Linked DNA regions of Homo sapiens. The protein of the gene in region 6 purifies or fractionates together with the protein of the main gene of each other region. This does not show direct contact. Each region holds a gene or a part of one and is shown on either strand. Other genes may lie near its edges.

Region 1 (2,984 bases), on a different chromosome or scaffold from region 6:
GTTTTGGAGACAAAGTCTCATTCAGGCTGGAGTGCAGTGGTGCGATTATAGCTCACTGCCACCTGTAACTCCTGGGTTCAAGTGATCCTCCTGCCTCAGCCTCCAGCGTACCTAGGACTACAGATGTGAACCACCATGCCTGGCTAATATCGGTTTCTTTTTTGTTTTGTTTTGAGATGGAGTCTTGCTCTGTCACCCAGGCTGCAGTGCAGTGGCACAATCTCGGCTCACTATAGCCTCCCCATCCCAGGCTCAGGCGATTCTCCTGCTTCAGCCTCCCAAGTAGCTGGAACTACAGGCATGCACCACTACGCCCAGCTAATTTTGTATTTTTAGTAGAGACGGGGTTTCACCATGTTAGCCAGGCTGATCTCAAACTCCTGATCTCATGATCCACCCACCTTGGCCTCCCAAAGTGCTAGAATTACAGGCATGAGCCACCATGCCCGGCCTATTTCTTAATAGTCCTTCCCCTGGTAAATAAAAACAATCAAACTAGATTTTCTTTAAGATGAAAAGTTTATTTTGCTTTTTGCCTAGAAGCAAAACTAGTGAAAATAAAAGTATAAAAATAAATACAATTTACATTAATGAACATTCCACTCAAAGTAAAAATAAGCAAAAAAAGTATATAAATAAAAATCCATCAAAAGCACAAACAGTGTCTGGCACCTGTATGAGAAGAAGCTATGAACACCAAAAAAGAATGTGTAAAACACAGGCTTTTATCTTTAAATTAAAAACACTCAAGTTTCTCATCCTTACTCTAAAGCTAGTTTTAACTTTCTCCAAAACTATTTGTTTTAACTAATTTGCATTACACACACAAAAAGTGCACAAAACTTTTAGCATCTTTCTTACTGGAGAGACCCACAATGCTATGAATAAGCTGTATCCTGAGTTTTCAGAATGATAAAGCACAGTTTATCATATTAAGAAGACAATTTGATACTTTGCCTATAAATTTTAAAAAATTGGTAACTTGGACTTTTTTTGACCATCTTCTAATTTTCTGGTTCACTCATTCAATACATGATACATCTCAATAAAGAAAATCAAGTTTACACCCAGGGTGGCTTATTATTTCTGTCTATAGCTGGATGTCAAAGTTAAATTTAAAATGGCACAGAAAATTGGAGAAAACAATCTTCATCTCCATATTCTTAAAAGGATATTAAGAATATATATAGGTTGCATTTTCAAAATACCAGTATCTCTTTAAAATTTAAATTAGATTAAATATACACTGTCTCAATTTTATGTGAAAAGCACAAAGCCCTTTTTGGAAATGGTATGATAAATTAATAGTGACATTCTCCCTCATGAAGTCACGTTATCTTGGTAACATTTGTTGGTTGATACTTTTTTTTTTTTTTTTTTTTGAGACAGTGTCTTGCTCTGTTAACCCGACTGGAGTGCAATGGCACAGTCTCAGCTCACTGCAACCTCTGCCTCCCAGGTTCAAGCAATTCGCCTGTCTCAGCCTCCCAAGTAGCTGGAACTACAGGCATGCACCACCATGCCTAATTTTTGTATTTTCAGTACAGATGGGGTTTCGCCATGTTTGGTCAGGCTGGTCTCAAACTCCTGACCTCAGGTGATCCACCCACCTTGGCCTCACAAAATGCTGGGAGTACAGGCGTGAGCCACCCTGCCTGGCCAGTTGATACTTTTAATGGATATGTTAGTGATGAAAAATCTTAAACATGGGTGTCTTTAAGCAATGCAGAATTTTAACCAGGCAATATTCTTATCCGGAAATCTGGATTTATTATTATATAGCCCTTTATTCTCTCCTAAATCAAGCATGCTAGAAAAAACAGACTATGAAGAACAAAATATACAGACTAAATAGAAAATATAACTGCATGCAACATATTATTATGTTACAGAAATGGATGTAATAATGCATTCCCAAGAGCTACATTCAAGAAGATTGTGCTGTCTTCCCCAAATTTGTTACCTGTCACAGAAAGATCTTATAACCTAGTACAAATGTTTCTAACAGTACTGGGGTAACATACATGAAGCCTAACATTTCTGTCAGACAACTAGTTGTCTGACAGGAATGTATGCTTCTGACCAAAATGGTGACCCACATTAACTTCTGTAGATTTTAGTGGGCCACAATTGGCTACATGGTTATACTGTAAGTCAAAGAAAGTGGACATTGAGTGGTTAATCCAAGTTTTTAAAGTTATAAAATGAGGGAAAGGCATTCTTCTGCAATAATTTCCCTTTGAATCAAATTCAAAAATCACTATGCAGAGATGAATTAAATTTATGTTTTAGAACTTATTTATAATTTGTCTTATCTTTTCAATATTCTGTAAAAGTAAATCCAAATGTCCTTGACATTTACAAAAAGGGTCTCTGTAGACATCTGGGCATATAAAATAAACTTATGTTTGTATAGGTAAGCACAGAGATGATGCAATTACTAAACACTAATTTGTCTTCACCCAAACGTATTATTAAGAGGAAAATAGGGGTGTGGAGCAGGAATTACCAAACTGACCAAATGATCCAGATAAGTGCTCAGCCTTCTGATGTCACTTTGTCTGTGTAAACGGAGTCCAGGGTTAAATAAAGTCTTGGGCAGGGAAAATAACATGAATAATAATCCTTCCCCCCATTTTATCCTAATGAATGTTGTCTTCTTAAATTGTCGCAACATTTGGCCGCTTTCTTTGGATTTTTCCTGCATATACTCCTAAAAATAGAGCAAAACCAGTATTACTTCTCAATGGGAGGTTTTCTATAATGATACCATTTAATGAGTTTTTACTCTGGAACAAACACTGAGCTAGGCAATATACATTATCATATTTAATCCTTATATGAATCATCCTGAGGTAGAAATTGTTATGACCATTTTAAGGATAATAAAACTGAGGCATAGGAGAGCAGTTGCCTAAGGAACAGAGCTAGAAGGAAGAACTCTGATAACCCAAGTCCACCTGATGTGTTATTTTACTTAACCA
Region 2 (3,500 bases), on a different chromosome or scaffold from region 6:
GGGCAGAAGAGCCCCTCACGAGCACGCCCTGTGCCCACACTCCTGCTGCAGAAACTCCAGCTGAGGGCTCGGAAGGGCCGGTGGGGGGCAGGCCCACCTGCAGGGGACACCACCCGTGCAGCCCGGCTCCCCTTGCAGTGGGCAGCCTAACCCTTTGCCACCTAGACACCCTCCAAGGGAGGCCAGCCACTCCCTGTCCACCCACCCTTCCCACAGCCCTCGGGCAGGAGTGGCCTGAGCCCCAGGGGTGGGGACCAGGCTGGGGTGCAGCAGGGCTCCAGAGGGGAGCAGGGCGCTGAGAGAGAAGGCAGGAAGCCTGGCTCCCACCGCCTGGCTCGGGGAGAAGGGCCCTCCTAGGTCTCCACACAGACACCATGGGCTGCAGGAGGCACCTGGGCGGGAGGCCACAGATGCTGCTCCTGTGGAGAAGCTGCCACGAGCCCCAGCTGGGACGGGCGGTGTGCCCACAGCACCAAGGCCCCGAGCACTGGAGGCAGGAGTGGGCTCAGGAGAAAAAACGTACACAGGTAAAATGACAGCTCGGGGTTCCCCAGGTGGCTCCTCACGAAGTCTCGCAAGTCCCCCACTGCAGAGGAGAAAAAGAACATACAGACAGCTCTTCCACCACGCCAGCCCCGGGCTGCCCCAGCACCTGGGCCACTGCTCCCACCCTCCTGGGCCTTTCCCCGAGGGGTGGGAATTCAGCCCTGTTCCTCCCACAGCACTCCAGGTGCTCGGCGTGGCTGGGCCACCGTGCGGGCCACACTTGGGACCCCCGCCCTGCTGGAGAGCACTCCCACTGCCACCCGCTGCCCCCCAGCCCCACCCCCGCCCCAGCCTAAGCGCTTCCCTTTCCCTGGGGGAGGCCCCTGTGACCTTGGGCTGCTGCCGCCCGGCCGTCTGGGTACAGGTCACAAGCCCCTGAATGTCACAGCACCACTGCCCTCCTCCCGGGGTAGGGTGCCTTCCTCTGGGTGCCCCTCTGCCCCACCCATGCCCAGTAGGTGGGCGACGTGAGCACTCAGGACCACGGGCTCCCTGAGCTGGGGCCGGGCACCTGGAGCAAGCGCCCAGCCTGCCTGACACTCTGCGAACTGGGATGCCTCTGCACCCCCAAGGGGACATCAGCACCCGCACCCACCCAGTGCCCTGGAGCCCGCAGGCCAGGTGGCTGCAGTCCTGTGGCCTGGAAGGAAGGAGCCGGGAGAGGCCCCATGGGCCCCTGCCCCCCATCCCCGGACACCCCACAGCGCTGCCCACCTGTCTCGCTGGGGCGGAAGAAGCCCTGTAGGACGTAGCGGTCGGGGAACAGGACCCTCAGAGCCACCTAGGCCAGACAAGTGGAAGGGTTGGAGGGACGGCCGGAGCTGCACCAGGGACCAGGGCGTGGCCTCCCCACTCGGCCCATGCTGGGCCATGGACACCAGGGCTGAGGCAGGCAGAAGCAGCCACCCCCAATCAGGGCCTGGGCTTTGACTCCCCCGTGGCAGGCTGGGCATGGAGACAGCCAAGTGCCGTGTGTGTGCACAGCGGCCTGCGTTCTAAAACCACACTGACCTGGGTTCAAATGTGCTGGTTTTTTTTTTTTTTTTTTTTTTTTGAGATGGAGTCTCACTCTGTCGCCCAGGCTGGAGTGCAGTGGCATGATCTCGGCTCACTGTAAGCTCCACCTCCCGGGTTCACGCCTTTCTCCTGCCTCAGCCTCCCGAGCAGCTGGGACTACAGGCGTGCGCCACCTCTCCTGACTAATTTTTTGTATTTTTAGTAGAGATGGGGTTTCACCGTGTCAGCCAGGATGGTCTCGATCTCCTGACCTCATGATCCGCCCACCTTGGCCTCCCAAAGTGCTGGGATTACAGGCGTGAGCCACCACGCCCGGCTCAAATGTGCTGTTTAAAGTTTCATTCAGCCAGGTGTGGTGGCTCAAGCCTGTAATCCCAGAACTTTGGGAGGCCGAGGCGGGCAGATCACCTGAGGTCAGGAGTTCGAGACCAGCCGGGCCAACATGGTAAAACTCCATCTCTAGTAAAAAAAAAAAAAACAACAAAAATTAGCCGAGCTAGTGGTAGCGGGTACCTGAAATCCCAGCTACTTGGGAGGCTGAGGCAGGAGAACCACTTGAACCCGGGAGGCGGAGCTTGCAGTGAGCTGAGATGGCACCACTGACTCCAGCCTGGGCGACAGAGAGAGACTCCGTCTCAAAAAAAAAAAAAGGTTTCATTCTAAATCATGAGCAGGGGAGGATCAACTGGCCACTAAGGGCATGCGCGCCACCACGGGGGGGCCCTGCTCAGAGCTGTGCCTCAGTCGCCCCCACGTCCCATCCACAGACCTCACAGGGGGCCCCCTCAGAGCTGTACCTCAGTCGCCCCCACGTCCCATCCACAGACCTCACAGGGGGCCCGCTCAGAGCTGTGCCTCAGTCGCCACCACGTCCTGTCCACAGACCTCACAGGGGGCCCGCTCAGAGCTGTGCCTCAGTCGCCCCATCCCGTCCACAGACCTCACGGGGGGCCCCCTCAGAGCTGTGCCTCAGTCGCCCCCACATCCTGTCTGCAGACCTTTGGGTAGCGCTCCAGCTTCTCCTTTATCTGCGCCTCCCTGAAGGCCTTGGTCACCAAGGGGGCTTCTTCCAGGCGCTTCCTGTGGTGAGGAGGGGAAGGAACAGGGCTTCTGGTCAGAATGGGGGCCCTGGCAACAGGCCCCGGGCTCCTCACCTGCACCCTCCAGGGTGGGAGTGGGCTGCTCTCCCCACACAAGGCAGGAAGGTCTGGACGCCCCTCCCTGGGCCCCAACCCTCTGAGGTCCTGTTAAGGGCAGCCTGTCAGGGACCTGGGCCGGGAGCCAGTGCTGGCACTGGGGACAGCGGGCAGCACAAGCACCCGATGGGGCAAACCCTGGCGCGAAGATGCCGGGAGGCACTGAGGGGGCACCCACCGCTCACTCTTGAGCTGGGCCAAGCGTCTTCTCACGTCGTCCACCGTCAGCTCAAAGAACTCATCAGGCAGCTCCGCTGGCCAGGCCTGCAGCCGCTCCTCCAGGTCGGGGTGGCACACCACCGGCTCCCGGTCCACGGGCTCCCGGTCCACGGGCTGGAGGCAGAGGGCGCGGCTGACGGCGGGTGTCACGGGCTGGGCCCTCCGCACCCCGGGCTGTCAGTGCCCCAGCCGAGGTGGTCACACAGACTTGGGAGCTGGGCCCACTCCCTCCCTGGCCCCGGCCAGCGCAGGGCCAAGGCCAGGTCCTGGGGGCAGGGCTGGGCACAGCAGCTGGGGGACCCCACCCCACTCAGAGCCTGTCCAGGGCTGGAGACCCCCCTCTCCCAGTCAGTGCACCAGACCTGATGCTGAGCCCCTGCTCCCCAGCAGGGCACATGGCCCCTGGAGTCTGGCTCAGGCCACGTCAGGGTCTCCATGGGGGGGAGGGGTGGCGACAGCCGCCAAATTAGAGCGTCGGCAAAAACCCCAGTCCAGCTGCCCCCGCTGCCCTCTTGGCCACAG
Region 3 (2,804 bases), on a different chromosome or scaffold from region 6:
TAATGGAACGAAGATTACTCTGCTTGAGTGCACTGACCTTTATCAACCATTTCATCAGAATTTCTGGAGCATGAATCTGTTAGACATCCTCTGCAACTGTTCGTAGGAAGAAGGATCATTCCTTTCTGGCTCAAGTCCAAAGGATCTTTCTCAAGCAACCAGAGATGGGGAAAGCAAAATCAAATCCACAGACAGTTGAAATCTAGTTAGGGAATAGTTAGAGGAGACAATAAAAATAACAGTCATGCTGCATAAGTCTCTAGAGGATACTGTTTTTCTTCCCGTGGCTGCCTGAAAAAACAATTACATTCTCAATATTCCTCCAACTAAGGCTTGGATTCAGTCCTATATAACATACCAATTGCTGGTTTGAGGCTCTTCTTTCAGGCCAAGTAGATATCCAGGAAAGAACGGTTCGGCACACATACACAAACCCATGTTCATAAAAAAACAACATGCTTTTCAAATTAGTACCAAGATTATAAAGACTGGGCAACATCTTACTATTTAAGAAAAAATATTTATTTGCAAGAAATGGAAATACAAAAGCATAACAATTTCAATTTATTTTTTTTTCCCAAACTAAGTACAAGTGTCCTACAAAGCTTTTTTTTTTTTTTGGTATTTACTTAGCTATGATAAAGAATAAAAAGTCATTTAAAAAACGCGATAGGACAGATAACAGACTCACAACGTATTTAGATTTAAACACTGCTGGTCTACGTAACCTGTTACAAAAGAGAGCAAAACCTAACTGTCAGCATAGACATTAAAGCTCACCGTTGATTATAGCTCAGGGCCTGCTCAGCATTGTTTAAAAAGGGTCACTCACAGTTTTGTCAAAGAGTGCTGGTGTTCTCTATGAACTCATAAACTGTTTTATCTGAAAAGGTGATTTTCTAAGTAGTGTAAGCCATGGGTACATGGTGCAAAAAGTTCATGTTCTCACTCAGCTGGTGAGCGAAGGATGGGAGCAGAGAACAGAGCTAAAACCCCTGGTTTTCCTTTCCCCAGATGTAAAGCCTGCTAGCTGGAACTCACAGAAGATTGGAACAAAAAGATAGGAGATGGACACCTGGGGGACTGCTCCAGCACGAAGGGAAGCGATGAGCATCACACAGCAGGGCCATTGCAGGGGACAGGTGCTGTAATTCCTGCCCAGAGAACTTGAAAGCTTACAGTGTGCTCACAGGAAGGAATCGGCTCAGCTAGTCCAGAAATTGCTGCATTTCCCATATTACTTAGTTCTTTATTCATCCTGTGGTAAAGAGTCACCCTTGTTTTCCGTATCTATAAAACTGAAAGACTTAAAATTTACTTAGCACAGCACGCAACACCCTAGTAAATGCTCAAGAAATATTATTTCCCTTCCTTCTAGAAACCAAGGCTAAATAAAACATTCCTGAATTTTATGTTGTCCAAAATAACAAAACAAAACAACACCTAGTTTTTTCCTGTGTTAAGTGCTGACCCTTTGACCACAAAGGCATGGAACATTAATCTTCAAATGAGCCAGGTTCCTTTGCCCTGAGAAATGTTCCGCTATGAGGATTTATAATACCTTTAATCCTGGCTGGTTGTTTTTTTGATGTGATTGCACTCCTGCAAACTGGGATTTTCCTAATGGACGTAACCCTATTTCTTTTCTCCTGATGTGCAAATCTGATAGTGGCTCACTTTTAGGAAACCACTTTTGAGCCTTCAGAAAAAAATTTTTCCCCACACCCAACTCAATCTAATAATAAAAGAATATATACAAAATCTCCCAGTGACGAGGGATTCCTCAGTCATCCTGGATTTACCTATAAGGCACATTTAAGGCACAAATGAGCATGTAAGGGAGGAATGTGCACGTGTGTGTGTGTGTGTGTGTGTGTGTGTGTGTGTGTGTCAGAGAGAGAAGAAGGGAGAGAGAAGTATAAGCATTTGGGTCTTTTGAATAACTATTATTAATGTTTCCTCAATCCCTTCTATTCCCCAATATTCCCTAGGGCCTCAGGCAACACTCTTCCTTATGAAACTGAAAAGTCTTAGGAGTAACTGAATGAGTGAGTGAATGAACGAAACATCTAAGTCTTGTCTCTGGATCCTTCACAGCCCTCACGTCACCACCACCTACTCTCTCCTGTAACTGCCCTCCCAGCGGGGCCTATCCTAGCATGTGTCTATGGATAGTCTCACCTGAAGGTGGCCAAATAAAATGACTCTCAAGAGGGCACTACCTGCCCATGGCTTCACAGGTCCAGCCAGCCCAGCAAGCAGAAGTGCTGGTGTCTTTAACCCAGGTTTCTTAAAGACTGGCTTCAATAGAACCAACTGTAGTGACTTGGGGCAGAGGAAGGGGAGGATGAAGGTCTTCTAGTGCATCTCTGCCCTCTCCGTGTTGGCAAGGTTGGCATGAATGGGCCATTATTCAACTGGGGGTGGGATGTCTCCATTTCTGGACTGTGCTCAAATTCACACCTTGTATGACATGTGGGCAGAGGAGCTGGCCTGGAGAGGCCTCTAATTCTGCCTCTACGCTTTTGCTGGGTCTGAGGACATGGGAGGGAGGAGCCATAAAATGCTGGAGAACAATTTTAAAAAACACTTATGAAAAAATGCTGGACACTTGACTCACTGCCAGAACAAAGAAGAGCCAATTCAACATCCCAACTTTACGGGCACGTAAGATTCACAAGCTGAACCAAGAGATTTAGGAAGAAAAAAAAAAACATGGTAATTATAAGGGGTCTGTGAATAAGTTAAACTAAAAGCTGCTTTCACAATCTACAAATTAGGCCTCCAAATCAAAATCATTTATA
Region 4 (3,618 bases), on a different chromosome or scaffold from region 6:
CACTGGGCACTTTAAGAGGGAGAGAAAGGGAAGCCCAGGGCAATGTGAAATTGGCCCTCAGCCAGGCAGAAAGCTCTGGCACCAACCCTACCAAGTTCTCCCCATGTGGGCATCTAGTGATGAGAGGCAGTGTGGGATGAGGAGGGAGCCCTGAAACAGGAGGCTGGCATCTGGTCCAGTCTCAAGTGAGTTCTTGGCCTGGGCCTGTTGCTTTTGAGCCCAGCGGTTCACCTGGACAGGGGAAGGTCAGACTACCAGTCTGGGCAGTCCTTACCCTGACATCCCATCCCACTATCATTTTGCAGGGCTTTCCCCTCTCCTTCCTTTACGTATACTTGTGGTTAACATTGTTGAGTGCCTGCTGTGTGCCAGGCATTGTGCTAAGTATCTCTTTCGATCCACACAACAACCCTATGAAGATATTCCCCCCCCCCTCCCCGTTTTAGAGATGAAAAAACAAAAGCTCAGAGGCCTTGAGGGATATGCGCAAGGAATCGCAGCTTGTTAAGTGCTGGGGTTTGAACCCCTTTGATGTGAGTTCAGAGCCTTTGTTCCCCATCACCACTCATGGGTTCATCTGGGCCGCCCCGAGCAGCTCTAGGTGTTTGGAGAAAGAAGTGAAAGGAGGGAGAGAGTATTTGTGCTGCAGGGAGCGAAGCATGATTTTTTGGCAGGTGTCTATCCTGGGTGCTCCCCGTGCCTCACAGCAGAGTCAGCAGGTCCCCGCCAGCCTGAGCATGAGAGGAAGAGGTCAGCCTCCTTGGGCCAGGCTCTGAGGAGGTGTGGAGTAGAGGCCCCGTGGTTGAGGAGCCATAGGGAAGTGCTCTAGCCACGCCCATTGTGAAGGCCACATTTGAGGGTGTGGCTTTCTCCTAGAGATCTGAGCACAGTAACAGCGCTCAGTCACAGAGAGGCAGGAGAGAGGTTCTGTTCCTCCTGGGTTTTGGTGCCCCCATGGCTGTAAGATTGGCCTATTATACTCTTTGGAGTACTGCATTTCTTCTTACTCTCAAAGCATCCTTGTTAAGAAGTGGGTATGACCACCATGTTTTTTAGGTTAGAAAAACAAGGCCCACAGAGGCCAAGAGCGCTACCCACATTGAAAGAATGAAGGGCAGGGCCAGACTGCACCTTTATTAGAGTCTTTGCCCTGTCGGGATGGGGACCCAATTTAGGGGCCAGCATGTGTCTAGCAGTGGAATAGGGGTGCAGGGAGGGTGGGGCAAGAGCCCCATGTGTCCTGGAAGCTGAGGGTCCCCCAGCAGCGGCCGCATTGCCAGAGCCCCCTGCTCTGCTGCTCTGCCTGTCCGCCTATCTGCCATTCCATCATGTGTGTGCAGACGTGCCTGCTCCCTGGATGCCAGCCTCTCACTGTCTCCTGTGCTTTTTGCCAGCCCAGGCAGTGACTGACCCGTGACCCAGCATGCAAAGAAGCCTGGAGCCAGGGGCCCAGTGGAACCAGCTTCCTCCAAGGAGATGACCTTTCTGCCCCCAAGGAAACCCCTTCCAGCTGAGCAGGGAATCCGGCCGGAGGAAGGAGCAGCTTACCGACTGCGGGTGTTCACCACAGGCCAGGCCCTAATATGCACCCACTAGTTTAGCTCAGACTCCTCTCTACATATGAATGGCAAAGGCACTTTTGATATACACTGTAAAATACACTGTATTTTAGAATCGGAATCTATTTTCTAATGTTCCCCTCAAGGGCTGAGTGGCAGGAAGGTTGAGGATGCAGGACTTTGCAGCTGCACGTACAGATTCAGGTACTTCTGGGTGACAGGTGTTGTGGGGGCAGGAAGGGCGGGGCAAGCCGAGGCTAGTCCAACTTCCAATGACCTCAGGAGAAAGTGAGATTTAAAGAGGTGTTCCCAGTAGACTCCAGCAAGAGGCTGGTTGGCGTGCTGTCTGGGAGAAGAGGGGCCCTTGGCTGCAGAGATCAGCTGTCCCTGACCTGATGACCAGCTCTGTGTGAAACTCCACGAGGATCACACGTGGAGCCCAAGTCTGTGCCTTGCCCCTTGGGTTTGGCTTAGGGGCAACAGTGTGTTCAAGAGGACTGGGGCCCACAACCTGCCCCCAGGCTTCCTCCAGCAAAAGGCTCTTGTCAGAAAGAAAAAAGCAGTTTGCTATCTTTTTTTTTTTTTGAGATGGAGTTTCACTCTTGTTGCCCAGGCTGGAGTGCAATGGCACGATCTCGGTTCACTGCAACCTCTGCCTCCTGGGTTCAAGTGATTCTCCTGCCTCAGCCTCCCAAGTAGCTAGGATTACAGGCATGTGCCACCACGCCCGGCTAATTTTGTATTTTTAGTAGAGACGGGGGTTTCTTCATGTTGGTGAGGTTGGTCTCGAACTCCTGACCTCAGGTGATTCATCCGCTTCAGCATCCCAAAGTGTTGGGATTACAGCCGTGAGCCACCACGCCCAGCCTGCTTTCATTTTTAACAGTACACATTGAAATACAGAAAAGGTGAGAGGAAGCAACTTTCATTGTATCGTAGCAATAAACTCCACACTGGGTGACATCTACCTAGAAATCCCTTCCCTCTAACCAGGCCATGATGGGAACCTTTGCTGCCTGCCCTTGGAGAACCCCGGATTGGCTTCCCTGGGACTCAGGTCTGGTGGCAGGAGGGCAGCAGTGTGCCCCCACCATCCCTCATGGCCTGCCGCCAGCAGGGCCATAATGGCAGGACTTTGATTTGACTTCCAGCCCCACATGAGGAGGGGGGCTACCAAGCCAGGTGCAGTGTTTGTGGCCCTTTATTTAAGTTGTTTTCTTATATTATTCTGCATATAAACAATGACGTTTAAATGGAAAAAACAACAACAACGAAAACCTCCATTGGGTGGAGCCACACTTTAAATGAAAATTTCTCTTTGACTATGCTCAGAAAAAAAAATAGAATTTTGAATATATCTAGCAGTTGTTGTCTATTTTTAACTAACTCCATATGCTGCCAGTATCGACTTCATGACATTTGCCAAAATAAAATTTTATTTTTGCCTTTATAAGATTTTCTTGGAAAAAATGAAATGAATATTTTGCAAGAAAAAGTTAATTTAAAAATGTAATGGTTTGCAAAAAAAATGTGATGTACAGATTAAAATATTAACCTGATACGTTTCCTGTTTCTTGCTGGCTATAGTCTCTGGTGAGTGGCCTGTGTACGTTTGTTTCCATTTCTTTGGAAAATCCCCACTGTCAGCTCTCGGCCCTGCTTCTATTTACCTATGAAAAGTTTCTTCTGGTGACGATTCCTTGACATTTGATTGACTGTAGAGGCCTGGATTGAGGAGGCCTGTGCTTCTGGGCCCCTGGCTAGGCTTCCACAGTTGCTCAAGGCAACCCCCTACCCCATCCCAGTCAAAGAGCCACCAGGCTGTGGACTCCCTTGTGGGGCTGGTTTGTCAGACAGACTGCAGTCCAATTCAAGACAGCGCAGGGAACGCTGTGGGCCCCCTTCCAACCCACATGCTGCCGGCTCGCTCCTGGGAGGCAGCTTAGTGACGGACCATTGCAAACTGGATTTGTATTTAATTCATTTTGACTTGTGATGTATGCTCACAACAGAAGGCAAGAAGCCAGTTCCATTGAGGGGTGTGTATATTTCTGAGCTG
Region 5 (2,410 bases), on a different chromosome or scaffold from region 6:
ACTGCCTGGGAAGCTACAGGTGATGCCTGAGCAGGTCACCAGGGGACAGATGCTGATGTCGGGCCTCAGTCACCTAGAGGTTAGGGGACTTTCCCAGGGTGCTGTGAGTGGTGGGGCTGGGGCAGGTTCATGAAGCCAGGCGGGCAGCCCAACTCTAGAGGCCACCTGACCCATTCGGCGGGCTGGGCTGCTTTTCATGGTCTCTGCCACACATGTGCACTCACACATGTATGTGCAAATACACACAGCCAAACACCACAAACACCATGTGCACATGGCCCTGACCAGGCTTCTCACTGAGATCAGAAACAGGAACTGAGGCCCAGAGTGGAGAAATGATTTACCAGAACTCGTGGAAGCCAGCCATACCAACCCCCAGCCCAAGGTCCTTGCCGCCCCTTTGAAGGTGTGTTGCCAAAGGAAACTGTGTTATACACGCCAATCAGTTCAGATGACAAGAGAAGCCCCCAAATTCCCAAGCAAGATCTTGGGCAGCAGCCCTAGGCGTTGTCTGCGCATTTGGTACATTGTCACTTACCCGCTATCACTCCTCGACCAAACTTTTCCCCTTTCCTGAGCAAGGCCTGAATCTGAGCAGGAGTCATCCCGAGTCTCTCCACCAGCAGCTCCCGCCAGGCATCGCCTTCCCAGTCCCTGTGAGCAATGTGGACGGCGATGGTACAGTTCCGCTGGCTGCTCAGCAGGGGACGCCAGCGCGTCTCCACAGTCTTGATTCCATTTAAGACAAAGCCAGCATAAGGCTGCCGGAAGGAGAGGCAGCCAAACTTCATCTTCGCAAGCGCCCCGGGCCTCCCGTAGCCTGCGGAAGCACAGAAGCGCATCACACGCCAGCCCTCCAAGCTCATGGGCAGTGGCCTGACCTTCCCCCCGTGTCTCTCAGGTGGCCTAAATCGCACTGACCTTGATGGTCTCCTGCTTCCGTCTGTCACTGATGTCCAGCACCACAGCAGGCCCAAGGGAAGGGGCTGGGATTCGGCTGACTCAGGTCCATCCCATGGAGTCTTTGGGGCGGTCCGGAGTAGGGCGGGGACAGCTAGAGGAAGGCACAGGCAGGATACCATGTGGTCAGTGCTATGACAGAGGTCACCGAGCCCTAGGGCAACACAGAGGACAGAGGGCCCCCTTGGCCTAGCCAGAGTGGAGAGTCCGGGCTGGTGTTAGCCCTCTTCCAGCACAGAGGGAGAGTCCCACCCTCTGCTTCTCTTCCCTTTCCCCTGCTGTGCCCTGCCAATACTCTCAGTGCCCTGGCCCTGCCGCCACCAAGGCACTGACCTTCCCAGCTCCTACTCCAGGGCTGCTGAGCCCACATCGTTGATATCCAATCTCAGCTCTGTCCTCAGGATGCACCGTGACCTCAGATGGCCCTCAGTCAGACATCTCCTCTCCACCCCTCTGGGTGCCACCTTCCTCAAGCCCCTTCCCCTACCACTGCTCTCCACTGTCAGCAGATGCCCCTGTCCCAATCTGAGCTGAGAAAAGAAGAATGATAATCAGAACAACTAGCAACCCCACACACATGCCTTCCACGTGCCAGCCTCTGGGATGGCATGATCCTCGGATCATCAAATTGAATCTTCAAGTAACCCAGCAGGGTCAGTGGTACTGTGAGGCCCACTCTATGGCTGAGGAGAATGAGGCACCAGCCCACAGTCACACGGGCTCTGACTTCCCACAACTCTTGCCCAGCCTCCTGCGTGTCTGGCTTGGGAGAGGGTCCCCTCCTCTTGCATGGAGGACGGCCCTGTGCCTTGGAAGGAACCCTGGGCTCGAAACCAGAACCTCAGCCCAGTCATAGACTCTTGAGATGCCTCAGTTTCCACATGGCTGTGAGGAAGGGAGATAAGGCACCAAGAGCACCCAGCCCAGTACGTGGCACCTAATAGAACAGTCAGAAATAGTGGCTGCCCTCACCCCTCAGGCCCGTGGCCCCGCCCCCGGCCCTGAACTCCACCCTTGAGCTGCCCCTACTCCTCTCTCTGTCCTTCCTTTCAACACATAAACGCAACCTCTAGTACGCTCTATGATTTTAAGAAAATATACCCACCCTCATGAGACAAAGCCCTGATAGGGCCAAAGCTGCCTGGTATTCACTCCTTTCCCAGTCTGCACTGCAGCCTTCTGAGCTCCAGATCTCCTGCTTTTCTCCCGCCTCTGGGGTGAGCTGCCTCAGCTGAGCCGGTTGCCTGCTGTGCTCTGGACCCTGCTCCTCTGGCTCACTCCGGGCCCTGGGTGCCACCAGCCACCATCTATGCTCGCTCAGCATCCCTACTCTGAGCACACGCGCGCCTCCCACTCTGCCTCCCTTCTCTACAACCCTGAACAGCCGAGACCTCAGAAGAGCTGTCTACATGCGCAGTCTCTACTTCCTCTCTGAACCTTCTGCCCCCAC
Region 6 (2,513 bases):
GATATTCTGAATTAGTGTTTGAAGCCCCGGATCCAGCCATGCCTGAAGGCAGAGTAAAAGCCAACACATTCCTCCCCTGCAACACCTTTTTTGTTTTGTTTTGTTTTTGAGACAGGATCTCACTCTGTCACTCAGGCTGGAGTGCAGTGGTGTGATCATGGCTCACTGTAGCCTTGGCCTCCTAGGCTCAAGCGATCCTCCCACCTCAGCCTCCCAAGAAGCTGGGACCACAGGCATGCACCACCATGCCTGCTTAATTTTTGTATTTTTTTGTAGAGATGGGGTTTTGTTATGTTGCCCAGGCTAGTCTGAAACTTCTGAGCACAAGCAAACTGGCCTCCCAAAGTGCCAGGATTATAGATGTGAGCCACCATGCCTGGCCTCCCTTTGCTTAAACAAGAGAGGTAGATGTTCCTGATTTTGCATATATCGGGTTGGGTCCCACATCTTCCCCACCCCTTTCCTGGGGAGTCCCAAACCTGCTAAGAATAAGCAAGATGTTGGCAGTGAGGACTTTATTGGGGAGGGTGACTTTGGCTTCCAGAAAAGAGGGAAGGTGGGGACCTAGTAACAATAACCATTTATTCCAAGGAGGCCCTGGCCCTGAACCCGGGGTTCCCACAGGAATCAGGGAGGCACCTGAGTCCCCCAGGACCAGGGCATCCCAAGGCATCATGGCAGCTGCGTTGTTCAAAAGGAAGTTTCATTGAGCTTCATCTTGGGAGGTGTGAGGGGAGTGCCGAGACCGCTGGAGGGCCACGGGGCTGGTGTGGGTGGCCGTCGGAGGTCTGGCCCACTCCGCACCAGTTCCTGGCAGCGTTCCACAAAGCTGCCCCCACCACGGCGCCGGGCCTCAGCCTGCGGGGGGCTTGGGCTCCCACGGTGGCCAGACAAGGAGGTGTTGCTGGAGGCTGAGTGGAGGCTGAGGAAGTAAGGACAGTAAGTGCACGTCATCACGGGGCAGCTGGGCCACTCTGTCCCCGGGAACACCATGCTGTCCCCTCTCCCCTCATTGCACAGAAGGGGCAGTGGAGTTGTGGCTACCTGGTGAGGGAGATGCGGGGTGAGGGGCTGGGGAGACAGCCCCATGAGGGAGCTGAAGGAGCCGGCGGGGCCAGCTCACAGTGTTCCAGCTGTTCCATCAGCTCTTGCTCCGTCAGGCCACCTGCTGGGGGGCACGGAAGCAGGGTCAGGGGGCAAGACAGGGGTCATAGGGCAAGGGCCTGGGTTGCATTGCAGTGCAAGCACCGAGGGTCAGGACAGGAGAGAGGAAGCAGAGATCAATGCATGGGGGCCAGAGGCTGAGACAGGGGTTGAAAAACAAGGGCAGGAAGGGATGGGGAGCAGAGAGGGGGTCAAAGGAAAAGGGGTCAGAGGGCAAGGGCCTGGGAGAGAGATCAAGCAGTTGGCAGTGGAGAGTGGTTCTGGGTGAGGCTGTGGGGCTTGGGACGGGATTGGGGTGGGGCAGGGAGTACCAGGGGCCTGGCCGAGGCCGTCCATGGCGGTGGTTAGGTCCCACATGGCCAAGCTGCCGTTGGCCTGGCCAGTGAGCAGGTAGCGCCGGGGCCGAGAGCCGAGCCGCCGGGAGCCCTCGCACTCCAGCACTGTGAAGGCTGTCGTGGGTGAGCCGTCCACGGAGCGCACGGAGCACACCCTGGGGGGTGCAGTGGGGGAGGTGGTCACCCTCGCTTTCTCACCCTTCCTCGTCCCAGTCCCCACCACTGTGGCTGCAGTTCCTGCCTCTCCAGGGGCCATCCCAATCTTTATCCATCCCTAGCCTGCTTTTGAGTTCCAGTCCCAAGGGTCCAGCAGCTCTTGGACACCGCAGCCCCAAACACCCAGGGAGTCTCCCAGAGCTTCTGCTCTTCCCTGCTCCCACTGCAGGGAAGACCTGAGGCCCGTCCCAGCTGCTCCCCCACCTCCTATCAGCCTCCTGGCCTCCTCCCTGGGCTCCTGGCCTCCCATCAAGCCTCCTTTCATCCCCCATGCAGTGGCCACGGCTCCCCGCACAGGACAAAGCCTCAGCCCTTCCACAGCCTGACAAGGCCCGCCCGCATCTGCACCCCATCCTCACCTCCTGTTCTGTGCTCCAGCCCAGGAGCCCACGTGTCCTTCCCATGTGACCCTATTTGGCCCTTCTCAGCCTCTGCACATACAGTTCCCTCAGGCTGGGGCCCCCTTCCCCTGCCTTCTTTCTTCTGCTCCTTCCTACTTGTCCTCTAGGTCTCTGCTCAGAGTCCCTTCATCCAGAACATCCTCCGAGGCCCCTTTCCCAGCTGAAGCAAGGCTCCTACAGCTCCCTGGGTCTCCTCCATCCCATCCCGACCCCTGCCCCTGGTCCCCCTATCCCACCCCAACCCCTCCCCCTGGTCCCCCCATCCCACCCCGACCTCTCCCCCTGGGCCCCCATCCCACCCCTCCCCCTCCGCCTGGGCCCCCCATCCCACCCTGACCCCACCCCCTGTGCCTTCAACCTGGCCCTGCCTGCACTGGGCTGGCACTGCGCCAGGTCA
Region 7 (3,054 bases), on a different chromosome or scaffold from region 6:
AAGACATTCCAGACTGTGAGGTACCAAGGCCTAGGGAAACAGGGGCTCCAGGCAGGGAGGGGCAGGAGGCTGGGAGCCCAGGCCAGAGACTGCTACCCCTTTAGTGAGGCTTCCCAAGCCTGGCCCCGCTGTGGGCACTGGGGCTGCTGAGGACGACAGGGTGCATGCTAGTGGAGAGCGCACAGCTGTCTGGGTGCTGTGGAAAGAGCTCTGGACCAGAAGTCAGAGATCAAGGTCTGCATACCAGCTCTGCCTTCCCTCCCGTCACCACCCAGCTGGGCAGACAGGCCCTGGACGAAGGGACCTTGTTCCACTACTGTCCTTCACTTTTGAGCATTTTCTCCTTCCCGCTTGGCTCTAGGATCTTCTCAGAACTCAACAGCACAGAAATGCATCTGATCATTGTCCGGGGAATGAACCTCCCAGCCCCTCCAGGTAACCCTAGGGCCGCCCCTACTCCAGGAGGCTCTTGCCCGGACACTCCAAGTGCTAGGCTCCTGGCCACTCCCTCTGACTTGACTCCCTTTTCTCCTTCCCAGGGGTGACTCCCGATGACCTGGATGCTTTTGTGCGGTTTGAGTTTCACTACCCTAACTCGGTGAGGTTCAGGTAGAAGTAGGATCCTCTGAAACCCGCCTTGCATTCCAGGACCCTGTGCTCACTTTCTTCCCATCCCTGGGAGGTGTGGCTGCAGTGCCTGCCCTGTGTGCCTCTTTGTTTATACGCTGTCCTGACTTCTCCCTCCTCACTGCTTAGGACCAGGCTCAAAAAAGCAAAACAGCTGTGGTGAAGAACACAAACTCTCCAGGTGAGGGCCACACGTGGGCCTCTTTCTCCTCCCTCAGAGTGTGTGGGCAGCACTGGTGTTTCCAGAGTGGGTTCCCATCTATGCCCTTACTTGATCCACCCCACTTGGGAGATAAAGGTGCTGTTAACATGCTTCTTCTGTAGTTGGAGAAACACGCAGAGAGGTACAGGGACTTGCCTGGGGCCTCATGGCAAGGAAGTGGTAGAAATGGGATATGAACACAGGAATTCTGTATCCCAATTCCAAGTCTTTCCTACTTTGTTACAATCTATGACTAAAAAGAGTACAAAAACTCACTTCCAAGGCCAGGACCGCGATGCTCTACCACCCTTTGGAGGCAGTACCCCAAAATGCAGGTGGAGAGATTGGGGGAAGGCAGCCAGCCCTGGGCCTCCATTTCCACTTCCTCAGGAAATCCCGAGAGCCAAGCCCCTCCTTGCTTTCTCCCCCTTTGCCAGAATTTGATCAACTCTTCAAACTAAACATCAACCGAAACCACCGGGGCTTCAAGAGGGTGATCCAGAGCAAAGGCATCAAGTTTGAGATCTTCCACAAAGGGTGAGGCTCCTATCGGTCATGCTGCCACACGGGCCGGGAGGAGGGAAGAGCGTTTGTCACTGCTGCCCCTGCATGGGCTCAGCCAGCACATTCCTGCCTTCCCTGCCCAGTCCAATCCTCTGCTGCCTCTTGACTCCCCAGGTCCTTCTTCAGAAGCGACAAGCTGGTTGGCACAGCACACCTGAAACTGGAGCGGCTGGAGAATGAGTGTGAGATCAGAGAAATTGTGGAGGTAGGGGCTGGGGTGTGGGCAAGCCAAAGGGGTTGGTACGACAAGAGCCAATACGCACTGAATGCCACACCTTGTTGTAGGTTTTCGTGCTCATTACTTAATTTGAAATTCTCCACAAGTGTGCTTAGAGTAGGTGGAATCCTCATTTCACAGATGGAGAGGTTCAGAAGGTCTGAGAAATCTCACAGAGGGACCCAGGAGAAGGCAGCCTCCTTGTTTCCATGAACTCAATGGATTCCACAGGCAAGGACTATACGACCTTGCCTCTGACAAATGAGGAAACTCAGGTCCGAGAGGAAAGGGGGTTCTGTAAGCTCATATGGTGTGTCCTTGGCAGAGCTACGACCAGCTCCTTACTGATAACCTATGTAGGCTGGGGCTCTTCCCACTGTAGCACACCTGGCCCTACTGCCTGCCTGGGGAAGTTGTTCTTATGCGGGCCCTGGTCTCTATTGGAGCCACTGAGGGTGGTTGGACTTCTTGGGCCTATTGTACTGCTTTGTGCCCTAATTGACTGCCTCATCTTCTGCCCAAAAGAGGGAGTAGCGTGGTGAATGGGAAGGAACCCTGGGTTTGGGGTTCCAGTGCTGACTCTGCCACATAGAGTCATCTGCTTCTCTCTCTTGGCCATCTGTGAAGTGAGGGTTTGGGTCAGTGGAAGGCTGCTTCTTCAAGCCAATGTTTCTTCCAGAAGTTGCCGTGGGGATTGAGGAGAAAATGAACAGAGCTCTAGGATGCTTGTCTGGATTTATTTATTACTTTTTTAATAAGACTCACCTAAAACCACCACCACCTCCTCCTCCAAATACTGGGAGGGTAGGGTTTTCATGAATGGAGATTCCTGTGTTCATGCCACAGGACATCTTAGCTCCTCTCACTTCTTTCCTGGGAATGTAGGGACCTGCCTGCTCCCCATCTCTGTCCCCTTAGTTACCATTTCCCTCTCTGTGGTCCTCACAGGTCCTGGATGGAAGGAAGCCCACCGGGGGGAAGCTGGAGGTGAAGGTGAGGCTGCGGGAGCCTCTGAGTGGCCAGGATGTGCAGATGGTCACTGAGAACTGGCTGGTTCTGGAGCCCAGGGGCTTGTGAGGTGGGCAGCTCTCTGGGCCTTCAGAACCTTTGCCCCCTCCTTTTACTCAACTAACTACTCAACTCATATCTGGAGAGAAAACCTAGGAGTTTCTCATCTATGAGAAAGACCTACCATGCTGGGTAGGGCTTATGGGCTGAGTTTCTGATGTTCCTCAGTAGAACTGGGAAGAGAAGGTAACCTTCCAAGGTTTAACTATCTATCTATCTATCTATCTTCAGGAAACCCTTTCTAAAATCTTTGTGTTTTCACTGCAGTTTAGACTGACTTCTTGTGCTTTGCACCCCTGTGTAGCCGATGGCCAGCACCAGGAGAGGAGTCAGGCCGCGACTGTGCAGGAGATGACTTTCCCAGCTTTGCTGGCTT

The links.
Region 1: the proteins of SHKBP1 (region 6) and CCP110 purify together in Homo sapiens (co-immunoprecipitation; one large-scale study listed by IntAct). This does not show direct contact.
Region 2: the proteins of SHKBP1 (region 6) and ASPSCR1 purify together in Homo sapiens (co-immunoprecipitation; 3 studies listed by BioGRID and IntAct, with this or other methods). This does not show direct contact.
Region 3: the proteins of SHKBP1 (region 6) and CREB3L2 purify together in Homo sapiens (co-immunoprecipitation; one large-scale study listed by IntAct). This does not show direct contact.
Region 4: the proteins of SHKBP1 (region 6) and PLEKHA7 purify together in Homo sapiens (co-immunoprecipitation; one large-scale study listed by IntAct). This does not show direct contact.
Region 5: the proteins of SHKBP1 (region 6) and EOLA1 purify together in Homo sapiens (co-immunoprecipitation; one large-scale study listed by IntAct). This does not show direct contact.
Region 7: the proteins of SHKBP1 (region 6) and CC2D1B purify together in Homo sapiens (co-immunoprecipitation; one large-scale study listed by IntAct). This does not show direct contact.

Annotation. Positions count from the first base shown.
Region 1 is NC_000016.10:19,550,925-19,553,908, reverse strand, and holds the end of CCP110 (centriolar coiled-coil protein of 110 kDa), read right to left. Parts: intron 2,714-2,984; coding exon 2,638-2,713; 3' UTR 501-2,637; downstream 1-500.
Region 2 is NC_000017.11:82,008,629-82,012,128, reverse strand, and holds part of ASPSCR1 (tether containing UBX domain for GLUT4), read right to left. Parts: intron 3,093-3,500; coding exon 2,938-3,092; intron 2,644-2,937; coding exon 2,562-2,643; intron 1,328-2,561; coding exon 1,261-1,327; intron 587-1,260; coding exon 524-586; intron 1-523. UniProt on the Homo sapiens protein: Tethering protein that sequesters GLUT4-containing vesicles in the cytoplasm in the absence of insulin. Modulates the amount of GLUT4 that is available at the cell surface. Enhances VCP methylation catalyzed by VCPKMT.
Region 3 is NC_000007.14:137,874,479-137,877,282, forward strand, and holds the end of CREB3L2 (cyclic AMP-responsive element-binding protein 3-like protein 2), read right to left. Parts: 3' UTR 501-2,804; downstream 1-500. UniProt on the Homo sapiens protein: Transcription factor involved in unfolded protein response (UPR).
Region 4 is NC_000011.10:16,776,797-16,780,414, reverse strand, and holds the end of PLEKHA7 (pleckstrin homology domain-containing family A member 7), read left to right. Parts: intron 1-1,394; coding exon 1,395-1,417; 3' UTR 1,418-3,118; downstream 3,119-3,618. UniProt on the Homo sapiens protein: Required for zonula adherens biogenesis and maintenance. Acts via its interaction with CAMSAP3, which anchors microtubules at their minus-ends to zonula adherens, leading to the recruitment of KIFC3 kinesin to the junctional site.
Region 5 is NC_000023.11:149,544,012-149,546,421, reverse strand, and holds part of EOLA1 (protein EOLA1), read right to left. Parts: exon of another isoform or gene 1,331-2,410; coding exon of another isoform or gene 1,294-1,330; intron 1,055-1,293; coding exon of another isoform or gene 922-1,054; intron 821-921; coding exon of another isoform or gene 792-820; coding exon 539-791; intron 1-538. UniProt on the Homo sapiens protein: May play a role in cell protection during the inflammatory response. In epithelial cells, negatively regulates IL6 production and apoptosis through the regulation of MT2A expression.
Region 6 is NC_000019.10:40,589,385-40,591,897, reverse strand, and holds the end of SHKBP1 (SH3KBP1-binding protein 1), read right to left. Parts: intron 1,655-2,513; coding exon 1,476-1,654; intron 1,169-1,475; coding exon 1,045-1,168; intron 923-1,044; coding exon 691-922; 3' UTR 501-690; downstream 1-500.
Region 7 is NC_000001.11:52,353,152-52,356,205, reverse strand, and holds part of CC2D1B (coiled-coil and C2 domain-containing protein 1B), read left to right. Parts: coding exon 1-20; intron 21-361; coding exon 362-435; intron 436-539; coding exon 540-598; intron 599-756; coding exon 757-808; intron 809-1,266; coding exon 1,267-1,366; intron 1,367-1,507; coding exon 1,508-1,598; intron 1,599-2,558; coding exon 2,559-2,687; 3' UTR 2,688-2,688; exon of another isoform or gene 2,689-2,982; 3' UTR 2,983-3,054. UniProt on the Homo sapiens protein: Transcription factor that binds specifically to the DRE (dual repressor element) and represses HTR1A gene transcription in neuronal cells.